Linked DNA regions of Homo sapiens. The protein of the gene in region 3 purifies or fractionates together with the protein of the main gene of each other region. This does not show direct contact. Each region holds a gene or a part of one and is shown on either strand. Other genes may lie near its edges. The genes, in order: LCP1, NEFH and GLYR1.

The links.
Region 1: the proteins of GLYR1 (region 3) and LCP1 purify together in Homo sapiens (affinity purification with mass spectrometry; 2 studies listed by BioGRID and IntAct, with this or other methods). This does not show direct contact.
Region 2: the proteins of GLYR1 (region 3) and NEFH purify together in Homo sapiens (affinity purification with mass spectrometry, with the first as the bait; one large-scale study listed by BioGRID). This does not show direct contact.

The regions. Positions count from the first base shown.
Region 1 is NC_000013.11:46,180,012-46,183,761, reverse strand, and holds the start of LCP1 (plastin-2), read left to right. Parts: upstream 1-1,584; 5' UTR 1,585-1,651; exon of another isoform or gene 1,652-3,750.
Region 2 is NC_000022.11:29,486,718-29,490,367, reverse strand, and holds part of NEFH (neurofilament heavy polypeptide), read right to left. Parts: intron 1,520-3,650; coding exon 1-1,519. UniProt on the Homo sapiens protein: Neurofilaments usually contain three intermediate filament proteins: NEFL, NEFM, and NEFH which are involved in the maintenance of neuronal caliber. NEFH has an important function in mature axons that is not subserved by the two smaller NF proteins.
Region 3 is NC_000016.10:4,833,647-4,837,296, forward strand, and holds part of GLYR1 (cytokine-like nuclear factor N-PAC), read right to left. Parts: intron 1-3,650. UniProt on the Homo sapiens protein: Cytokine-like nuclear factor with chromatin gene reader activity involved in chromatin modification and regulation of gene expression. Acts as a nucleosome-destabilizing factor that is recruited to genes during transcriptional activation.

The DNA.
Region 1 (3,750 bases), on a different chromosome or scaffold from region 3:
GAGTCCTGCTGCAGGGCCCCGAATGAAGACAGCATTTTGCTGCTTTGTAGCGTGAGCAGTGCTGTAACAGTGATGCATGGATGTTCCTCTGGTGTCCTGAAAGAATGTAGGTGCTTCTTGAAAGCTCTCTGCAACTTATTAATTGGGAGTGATTATGCGATGGAGAAAACAGAGTCCCATCACCCCCTCAGTCTTCCCTGGGAAATCACAAGAGGGCTGATAGCTCTCTGTGAGGTGAACCGTTTCTAGAATCCCCACCGTCTCGTCCTGTTCTTCCGCCCACCCAGTTCCTCAAGATAGCCCCTGTGGGCTTCTGATGAAGTCACCACACCACTGGCTAATGAAGTAGATAAACCAGAACAGTTTGGTTTAACATTTAAGGTCAGAAACAGGAACTTTCTAGAGGAGAAATCAAAAAAGCAAAAGAAGTATAAGGGCAGCCCTCCAACCAGTCAGAATACCGTGACCACCTGAGAGGCCCGTGGCCCAGCGGACACGGACGCATGTCAACTCTGGAGCAGATATCTTCAGCGCAGCATCTGACCTGGGAGTACAGCCACATACCCTCATTCCTAAACGGCAGATTGACTACTGGAGTCACACACAGTCTCCGGGCAATGTGGAGACATGTCTAATATTTAGTCAACATAACTCAGGGTGCCACAGTCTTCACAACTGTTGTGAGCACTTGAGGATGCTCCATTTGAAGATAGGAATTTGCCCTCAAGCATCTGGGGTTTGGGTACAGAACAGAGCTTCCCCTGCCACCACCTGCTAATTTTATAAAATGTGCATTCAAAAAAAAATCCTGCCTGTAAGAAGGAATTAAGCTACCCATTTAAATATAACAGCTGCCTGTGCAATCTACTGCTGCTCTTTATAGGAAACGCTTAAATAATTGAGATACTTAATTGGGTTAAAGAGATCCCTAGCACATAGATGTTCTATAAATAAAAGAATGAGTAAATAATCTAGTAACCTTCCTTTTCATGTCCTTCACTTAAAGAGATCGTTCTGTTTTGTTTGCACCAATAAGATCACTGTTAGAGGACTCCAGAGAGGTTTGATTTCAGGTGGGGTGGGGCTTTCCCAAGGAAGTCCCTTTTCATTTGTTTCAGGTGTACTGCCACCTTTTTCCCTGGCTCTTTCACTAAAAATGAAAAATTTGTTGATCTTTGCTGTAAGTAGGTAGGCATCTGGGCTTTGCTTTTGCAACTAGAGTCAAAGAAGTCAAGTTATCAGGCTGATCTTGCCTTGCTATCTAGAATCAGAAAGGTTTAAGTAGCCCAGGGACTACTCAAAGACAGCTGGAGGAGAAAGGGAGAGAGAAAAATGCTTATAAAGAGGTGGGCAAAAGAGCGGGACCTTGTCTCAAAAAAAAAAAAAAAAAAGAGGAAGTGGTAGGAGGTGTCTGAATTTCACTGTGACCTGTTCTGTCAGGTGATTTTTGGTGGGGCGGGGACATGAAAAAAAAGTTAAAATGTCCTTATAAAGACAAAATCTTTTTCTTTCCTGGCTGATGATTTGTCATTCTAGTCACTTCCTGCCTTGTGACCACACACCCAGGCTTGACAAAGCTGTTCTGCAGATCAGAAAGAAGGGGTTCCTGGTCATACACCAGTACTACCAAGGACAGCTTTTTTCCTGCAAGGTAAATGTTCTTCATGTGTTTTTGTTGGTTTTAAGCGCTTGTGATGCACTTCGGCACTGTTTCTGTGGATTGTGGGTTTTGCCTTCAGGGGACCAGAGATCTGAGCATGTCACCTGAGACCTCTGTGATTCCTGCCACTGTCTAACTGGCCAGGACATCTGCCGCCACCTCGCGTGGCCATCCAAGATGGAGCACCTCGGCTCTCTGGGCTGGGTTCTTCTCAACTTATCTGCAGTTATCACCCCTGCCCAAAATTAAGGTTTCTTTTTCCTTTTAAAACCAAACCATGTTCTGGTTTATTTCTATTGCTCTATTTCACGGAGGCTATTTACTGTGATTTTATCTTCTTTAAAATGTTTTCAGGAAAAGCGCGTATTGATAATTTAGATTGTATGGCTTATTGGCCCAATGGGGGTAGTTTAATTTTAGTTCCTGCGGTTCTGTTTTTCTAAAAAACTTCTTTACAGTACTTTAGTGGATAAATTATCTAGAGTCATATGTTACTGAATGTGATACTGGTTATTTGAGTGATTTTTGGCGCCAAGGGTTTTTAATGGGTGTGCTTTATAACCACATGGAATTAGAGGTTTTCTCTTTTCCATTTGTTCTCTAAAAATAAAAGCAATTTGTATAATGCTTAATTGTAGTGTTTTTGTAGGATTGTCTGAATTATTTGTTATGCTTATGACCATATCAATGAATATTCACTCAAATTCTGGGAGAAAGGCTTTTATCTACAATAGAAATTTTTACACAGTTGATATGGGATATTTATTTCAGAAACTGCCCAAACATAGACACTTTGGATTTTGTAGTATAAGCTTTTACTTAATTACCACTATCACATAACACTAAGAACCATTGACAAATGATAACTATAAAAGCCATTCAGACTGGAAATGCGAACATTAATCAGGATGTTTATCAAAACCGAACTTTTCTTTTACACAGCAACTTGTTTTCTAAAATTACTCTGTCAGAACTATCAGTAAGCAAATAAAGGTGGCTTATCCACACACATCTTGATTTTGAATTTACATACATTTGTCATAAGTTTGGTTTCTATTAAGTATAATTGTTTAAAGAATGTCTGTGTAGACAAATTTGAATAGAATTAATCATTTACCTATAAATGTGAATTTCTGGAAACTGCAAAATGTGACCACCAATGTTACTTTGCACATCTCACCTGAATAGTTTCAAACAAGCAAAAATGTGAAACTGAGATAAGAGGGACTTGAACCCCGTAAAAGAACAGACTAAAAATATGTTGTGTCTTATTTTAAGTAAAACTATTAATGAGAATAAAATAAATTCGAATGTGAAGGAATGTCAGTATTTTTCTTATATTTACGAAGGAATAAAAAAGAACTATGCGAAAGTTAATTCAAAATATAAAGGTCCCCTGTTTAAAGTTAAGTTTACATTGCTAAAGCATCAACCCCATATGTTACAAAGATATTCCTCTTCATTCTAGCTCACCCCCAGGAACATCAGGGGAAAAATCTTCTAGGTCTTGCCCTTTGAACAAGCACTGCTGTGGTGGGATGGAGTTGTGCCTAGGAGGACATTTCCTTAGCAATCCCAGAGACCCTTTTCTTTGTAGCATTTAAATTTTTGTCTCTTTTGTAAATTATGCCTTGAAACAATTGGTAATTTGGGAAACAATTTCAGTGCTTTAACTTCATTTATAATTCTATCTCTGAACCCTTTGGGGAAGGGAAGACCAACAAGTAAAGTCTCATTTACTTGTTGTTAAAGTACCATTTAACTTGGAGAGGACAGGAAATTAATAATAGCACTCAATAATTATGAGCACGTAGTGTAAGCAGCTACTCTTTATGCATTACCTCGTTTAATCCTCTCAGCTACCTTTAGAGATAAGGAATGGGCTAGATAATTGAAGGAACCGGCCATAGGTCACTGGGCAGTTGGGGTGGGGGGCAGTAGATGGCCAGGATTTCAGGCTCCTACTGACTGTGTGTGTTACAGATCCTCCCTTCCAGGCCAGCATATTTTTCTCAGAGGTAGGTGATTATAGACTTTTATTACTGAAGCTAGCTAACAAGATCTTGGCACTCACAGTTTTAAGAGAGAAT
Region 2 (3,650 bases), on a different chromosome or scaffold from region 3:
CTCCTTCTCTGGGGTGGGGACTTTTTTCTTATCTTCAGCCTCTTCCTTCTTGGCTTCAACTTTGGATTCTTTGGGCTTTTCGACAGCAGGTTCCTTCTTCTCCTCCACCTTGGGCTTTGGAGCCTCCTTCTTGGGTGCCTCCTCTTTCTTGCTGTCCTTCTTCTCCTCTGTTTTTGGTGTGGCAGGGGCTTTCTCTTCCTCTGCCTTCTTTGGGGGCTCTTTGACTTTCACCTCCTGGGGCTTCTCCTCCTCCTTCACTGGGGACTTCACCTCTTCCTTTTTTGGGATCTCCTTCTCAGGGGCCTTGGCATCCTCCTTCAGGGGAGATTTCGCCTTCTCTGGGGACTTGACCTCCTCCTTGACAGGGCTTTTGGCCTTTTCAGGGAATTTGTCTGCAGGGGACCTTGCTTCCTCCTTCGCTGGAGTCTTGGCTTCTGGAGACTTCACATCAAGAGTCTTGGCCTTCTCTGGGGACTTGGCCTTCTCTGGGGACTTAGCTTCTTCCTTCACTGGGGACTTGGCCTTCTCGGGGGTCTTTGCTTCTTCCTTCACTGGGGACTTGGCCTTCTCAGGGGACTTTGCTTCTTCCTTCACTGGGGACTTGGCCTTCTCAGGGGACTTTGCTTCTTCCTTCACTGGGGACTTGGCCTTCTCAGGGGACTTTGCTTCTGCCTTCACTGGGGACTTGGCCTTCTCAGGGGACTTTGCTTCTGCCTTCACTGGGGACTTGGCCTTCTCAGGGGACTTGGCCTCTTCCTTCTCTGGGGACTTGGCCTTCTCAGGGGACTTTGCTTCCTCCTTCGTTGGAGACTTGGCCTTTTCCGGGGACTTGACCTCAGCTGGAGATTTTGCTTCTTCCTTCACTGGGGACTTGGCCTCAGCCGGTGACTTTGCTTCTTCCTTCACTGGGGACTTGGCCTTCTCTGGAGACTTGGCCTCAGCCGGTGACTTTGCCTCTTCCTTTGCTGGGGACTTGGCCTTCTCGGGGGACTTGACCTCAGCTGGAGATTTTGCTTCCTCCTTCTCTGGGGACTTGGCCTCAGGCGGTGACTTTGCCTCTTCCTTTGCTGGAGACTTGGCCTTCTCAGGGGACTTGACTTCGGCTGGGGATTTTGCTTCCTCCTTCTCTGGGGACTTGGCCTCAGCCGGTGACTTTGCCTCTTCCTTTACTGGTGACTTGGCTTCCTTCTCTGGGGATGCAGCCTCTTCTGCTGGGGGAGACTTTGTTTCTTCTTCTCCCCCTTCTGCCTCCTCTTCTTCACCCCCTTCTTCCTCCTTGCCCTCCTCCTCTTTGGCCTCTTTCTCCTCTTCTTCAGTCACTTCTTCAGTCACTTGGGTCTCCTCTGTCTGTTCCTCCACAATCACAGTTTCTTTCTCAGACTTCTCCACCACTTTGATCTTCTCTTCGCTTTTCACCTTTATGTGAGTGGACACAGAGGGAATTTTGGGGAGTCCTTCTGGAAGCGAGAAAGGAATTGGGCCAAAGCCAATCCGACACTCTTCACCTTCCAGGAGTTTTCTGCAGGATGGATCACGGAACACATTAGTATAAACTCAGGGCAAATTCACTATTTGGGTTCTTCCTAGACTATCCTGAAGGTCACTGACATCGAATGATATGGGTTTTGGTGGAACAGGAATGTGAATGGTGGGCATTATGAGACTAGAGAAAGTCACTTGGCAAATCATTCCAGTGACCACCCAGAATGTGTACCCCGGTGGGACTGGTCTTTTTTTGTTGATGTTGTTGTTTTTGAGAGGGTCTCACTGTGTTGCCCAGGCTGGAACAGCTGGTCTTCTTCAACACAGCTAAGCCTGAAACTTTTGAAATAAAACAACTTTTGCCCCATAAAAAATGGCCCTCAAGAGAAAGCTCCTAAATAAATTTAACAAAAGTTAAATTTATTGTCCCTCAAACTAAAATATTATTCAAGAGAACCCTGGGAGCCTGAGCAAACAATTCCACTTTTTTTTTTCCTTTTTTTGAGACGGAGTCTTGCTCTGTCACCTAGGCTGGAGTCCAGTGGTACAATCTCAGTTCACTGCAACCTCTGCCTCCCAGATTCAAGCAATTCCCCCAGCTTCAAGCAATTCTCCTGTCTCAGCCTACTGAGTAGCTGGGAGTACAGGCGCACGCCACCACGTCCAGTTAATTTTTGTATTTTTAGTAGAGACGGGGGTTTCACCATATTGGTCAGGCTGGTCTCGAACTCCTGACCTCAGCCGATCCACCCGCCTAGGCCTCCCAAAGTGCTGGGATTACAGGTGTGAGCCACCGCACCCGACCACAATTCTACTTTTATAAATTTGGGTTTAAGAGGTCTTAGAACGCTCCCATTTGAATCGCGAGTGTCTCTCATCACCCTGTATTACCATCTTTTGAGTTTCAGGAATAGGGTAGAGGCCGCAGTTTCTCCTCTTGGCTTTGCTCCTCACTAGATGGGTGACCTTGGCCAAGACACACCAACTCTTTGAGCCTCAATTTCCTCACTGGAAAAAGAGGGTCATTAGAGTCCCTACGTCAGAGGGTTGTTTCAGTGAGACAATGAATGGAAAAGACTTGGCAGAATGCTTGTCTCAGAGTAAGTGTGGGGGTTACCCCTCAGACTAGTACTTCCCAAATTTAGCAGCACACAGATGACCGGGGATCTTATCAAAATGCAGATTCTGATTCAGCAGGTCTGGGGAGGGGCTGAGCGTCTGTCTTTTGTTGTTGTTGTGTTGTTGTTATTTTTGAGACAGTGTCTCACTCTGTGATGACAGGCTGGAGTGCAGTGGCACGATCATAGCTCACTGAAGCCTCCAACTCCCAGGCTCAGGTGATCCTCCCACGTCAGCCTCCTGAGTAGCTGAGACTAAAGGCATGTGCCACCATGCCCAGCTATTTTTTTTTTTTTTGTATTTTTTGTAGAGATGGGGTTTTGCCATGCTGCCCAGCTTGGTCTCTGAACTGAAACAATCTGTCTGCCTTGGTCTCCCAAAGTGCTGGGATTACAGGCATGAGTCACTACACCCAACCAAGAGACTATCTTTCTGATAAGCTCTTGAATGATGCCAATTCTGCTGGTTCATGTGCCATGCTTTGAGTAGCAAGATTACAGACGAGAGCCAAGAGGTAGGAAGCCACAGGTCACCAGTCAGAACTGGGACAAGTCCTCAGGGAATCAGTCCTGCTCCCTAGCCCTGCTCCCCCCGGTCTTATTCCTCAGACTGGATTTCTCAAGGCTGCCACTGACTAAGGGTTCCCTCTGTAGCAGCCCAGTGGTACCTGTGCTTCCTGGATTAGCTTGGGAATGGGATTAGCTCATCTTCCTGACAACCCTATGACATGGTTGCCCTTATTATCATCTCCACTTTATATCCCCAAGAAATGAATGCTTGCAGAGCTAAGAAACTCTAAAGGACAGAGTTTGAAAGGTCCCTGACTCAAGCACCTCTTTTCCCTTCAAAGCAGGCCTCTGGCTGGCTGGATCTGGGGAGGGGATAAGGAACTTCCACCGTCTAAATCATTTCAGAATGAAAGTAAGTCACTCTCAAGACTCATTGGCTGGGCACAGTGGCTCACGCCTGTAATCCCAGCACTTTGGGAGGCCGAGGTAGGCGGATCACCTGAGGTCAGGAGTTCGAGACCAGCCTGGCCAACATAGCGA
Region 3 (3,650 bases):
AAAAAAAAAAAATAGAAACAAGATGCTTGAGATTAAAGGTAGAAGAACATACACCTCCGATATGTAATTTTTAATTTCAACCATCAATGTGTAACACATGAAAGTGAAAGTAGTCAGCTGTCAATTCTGGGGTTTCTGATCTGTCACACTAACCTGAACAAATCTGCTGCAGCTGGCTTTCTATGGCTTCCCTGAATGGCATGCAGCTTATAGAATCCAAGCACAAAATAATTTTATAGGCTTTACAAGGTATCAGTTAGTTTACATGTTTTAGCCTGTGATACAGGTTTCACAGCATAACCTTCAGAAAAAGTAGGTCAGGTTAAGGATACAGAAACCCAGCTATCTCACAAGCTTCAGGTTGTTTTCTTCATAGAAAGCTAGAGAATATTCACTAACAGCAAGTGTTAACCTTTGCACATAAAAATAATGTTACTAACCCTCCACCAGCTACCTGGACTTTGAGTGTGCTGCTGGTAGTTGTGATAATGGGGTCTGTGCAAAAACACAGACCTGGGATCATCGGCCTGCAGATGTCAGGCAGCGAACCACTATCAGGCATGCCACCATGGCTAAGTGAGATGATGAATGGAGATACAGAAGCTGGTCTCCCTGGCACAGCTCCAACTAGAGGAGTTAGGCAAATTCCTTTTTTTTTTTTTTTTTTTTTTGAGACGGAGTTTCACTCTTGTTGCCCAGGCTGGAGTGCAATGGGGCGATGTTGGCTCACGGCAACCTCGCCTCCTAGGTTCAAGTGATTCTCCTGCCTCAGCCTCCCAAGTGCTGGGATTACAGGCGTGAGCCACCACACCTGGCCTTTTTTTTTTCCTTTTTGAGACAGAGTCTCATTTTGTCACCTAGGATGAAGTGCAGTGGCACGATCTTAGCTAACTGCGACCTCCGCCTCCACCTCCCAGGTTCAAGCAATTCTGCCTCTATCTCCCGAGTTGCTGGGACTACAGGTATGCACCACCACACCCAGCTAATTTTTATGTTTCTAGTAGAGACGGGGTTTCCCTGTGTTGGCCAGGCTGGTCTTGAACTTCTGGCCTCCAGTGATCCACCTGCCTTGGCCTCCCAAAGTGCTGGGATTACAGGTGTGAGCCAGCAAACTCCTTTCCAGTGACCAACTCATCTTAAAGTTTGAAATTCAACATGAGAGCGCCAATGAGTCCAATCTGCTGGGAGGAAAAGTGGAAGGAGATTTCGACCCCAGATTTTCTGGCAAGAATATCCCTGAACTGACTCCGTTCCCTCTCCTTACAGGGATGCTAATGACAGGCCAGAGCAATCAGATGCAAAGTCAGACCCAGCCCCAAAAGCCAGTGAAGCTACCATACTAACCCGTGGGTCTGAGATGACACAACCAGTATCAAGGATGAAGCTTAAGGAGTCGTGACCAGCCAGTTCTTCCTAGGAGCTTCTGGTCAGAAGCTGAGAACCACACAAGTTCCCAATATAGGACCAAAAAGGTGATTTTTATGGAACCCCTTGAGATGGGACAACAGACTCCGAGACTTGCTAATCCCACCCACGCCATCCTGCTACCTCCATCCCTGCCTCCCACTACCCAGCCTCACAGGAACCCGATTCTGAGGGAACAGAAAGGTGAGGATGTCTGTGAAGTGCCAAGGAATCAACCCCATTTTTTGTTGAAGCATCTTACAAGGTTTACTGATTTCTGCTAGAAGGAACTGTACAGTCAAAATTCCACTCACTTTAAAGCATTTGAGATACTAAAATTTTCCTCTTTACAACCATCTTCGAAACATTAAAATGGCTAAATGAACTGACAGTATGAATAGGATGGTAAATCCAAGAAATGTTAATCTATTTAAGGAATCAACTTATTGCTGGAGAAGCATCCTGTTACATCAAAAAACAGCCATAAAAAACCAGCTTGGCTGGGCACGGTGGCTCACACCTGTAATCCTAGCACTTTGGGAGGCCGAGGCAGGCAGATCACCTGAGGTTAGGAGTTTGAGACCAGCCTGGCCAACATGGTGAAATCTCGTCTCTACTGAAAATATAAAAATTAGCTGGGTGTAGTGGCACGCAGCTGTAATCCCAGCTACTCGGAAGGCTGAGACAGGAGAAACACTTGAACCCAGGAGGCGGAGGTTGCAGTGAGCCAGTATTGTGCCACTGCACTCCAGCCTGGGCAACAGAGTGAGACTCCACCTCAAAAACAGTAACAACAAAAAAACCCAGCTTACCAGAGCTCTATGGGGATTACCTCTTGAAAGCAAACCAAACTTAAATCACTTTGGCTATCTGAATACAATTTTTTCTCTAAAGGTTACACTTCTTTCATCTTTTTTAAATTTATTTTTTATAGAGATGGGGTTCACCATGTTGCCCAGGTTGGTCTCGAACTCCTGAACTCAAGTAATCTGCCCACTTCAGCCACCCAAAGTGCTGGGATTACAGGTATGAGCCACTGCAACTGGCCTACCTCTGTCTTTTTAATGAGAATATGCTTTTCAGTTGGCGCCTCAACAATGCACCACTGTCTAATTCACGGAGGCACATCAGCCGGGCCTGGCACACCACTGGTCCTCAATAAATAATCACTGGGTAAATGATTCCTTCCCAGATGTTCAGGAGGATGTACTGCTCACCAGTGAGTTAAAAGGTGCTACAATGCTCCAGTGCGTAAGGCTTTAGTGTTTTTGTTGTTGCTACTGTTGGTTTTTTAAGTGACTGTTTCTTTCCTTGATAGAAGCTGTAACTTTTGATTTTCCTATCATCCTCCCAAGACTTAGATGGAGCTATATCTTTCAGCCCAATTGTGGCTGGGAAGTCAGAAAAATCAAGCTTATTCAAGCTGTATTTAAAGTAGGAGACTTTGCTTTTTATGTACAGTAGAATGAATGACACATTGTGATAGTAAATAGCTGAAAACAGGCAAGGTCATTACAGAGAAGGAAAGCGGATGTCTCGTAAGATATCTGGCTACGTGGAGATGAGCAAGATAAAAAGCAATGCATGTTATGTGCTACCACTCGTGCAAAGACAAGGAAAATGGACTGACCACGCACTGATATCTCTGGAGGGACACATCATCAGAAACTGGTCTAACTGGGTGGCTGTGGGATGGGGATGAATGCAACTGTTTCAATGTTGACAAGTTTTTGTTTTTGAATGGTGAACACATATTATATTGGAAAAAAAAAAAAAAAACAAAACAAATCAATACTAAAGGCCTCTGCCCTAGAACACAGGCTATGCCGACTGCCCAGAGGGTTTCCTCCATGACTTCCTGGTTTGCAGGTTTGCTCTGGTGGGTTGCTGCTGCCTGGCTGCTGGCATAACTGCACCTGTAACACAGCCAATTTACCCTGGTGACCTGACACTCTTCCTATAAAAAGTCTCTTCATCTATGAATACAGAACCGCCACTAAGGCACTCTCAGATTACTCCAATCAAAATGAATTAAAATCTGGTATTTTCAAAAACTTGCACACTTCTGATTTGCTTTCCTCTTAAATGAAAATCATACATGTAGGGCCCGGTGCGGTGGCTCATGCCTGAATCCCAGCACCTTGGGAGACCGAGGCAGGTGGATTGAGGCCAGGAATTCGACACCAGCCTGGCCAACATGGCGAAACCCCATCTCTACCAGAAAACACAAAAATTAGCCAGTTGTG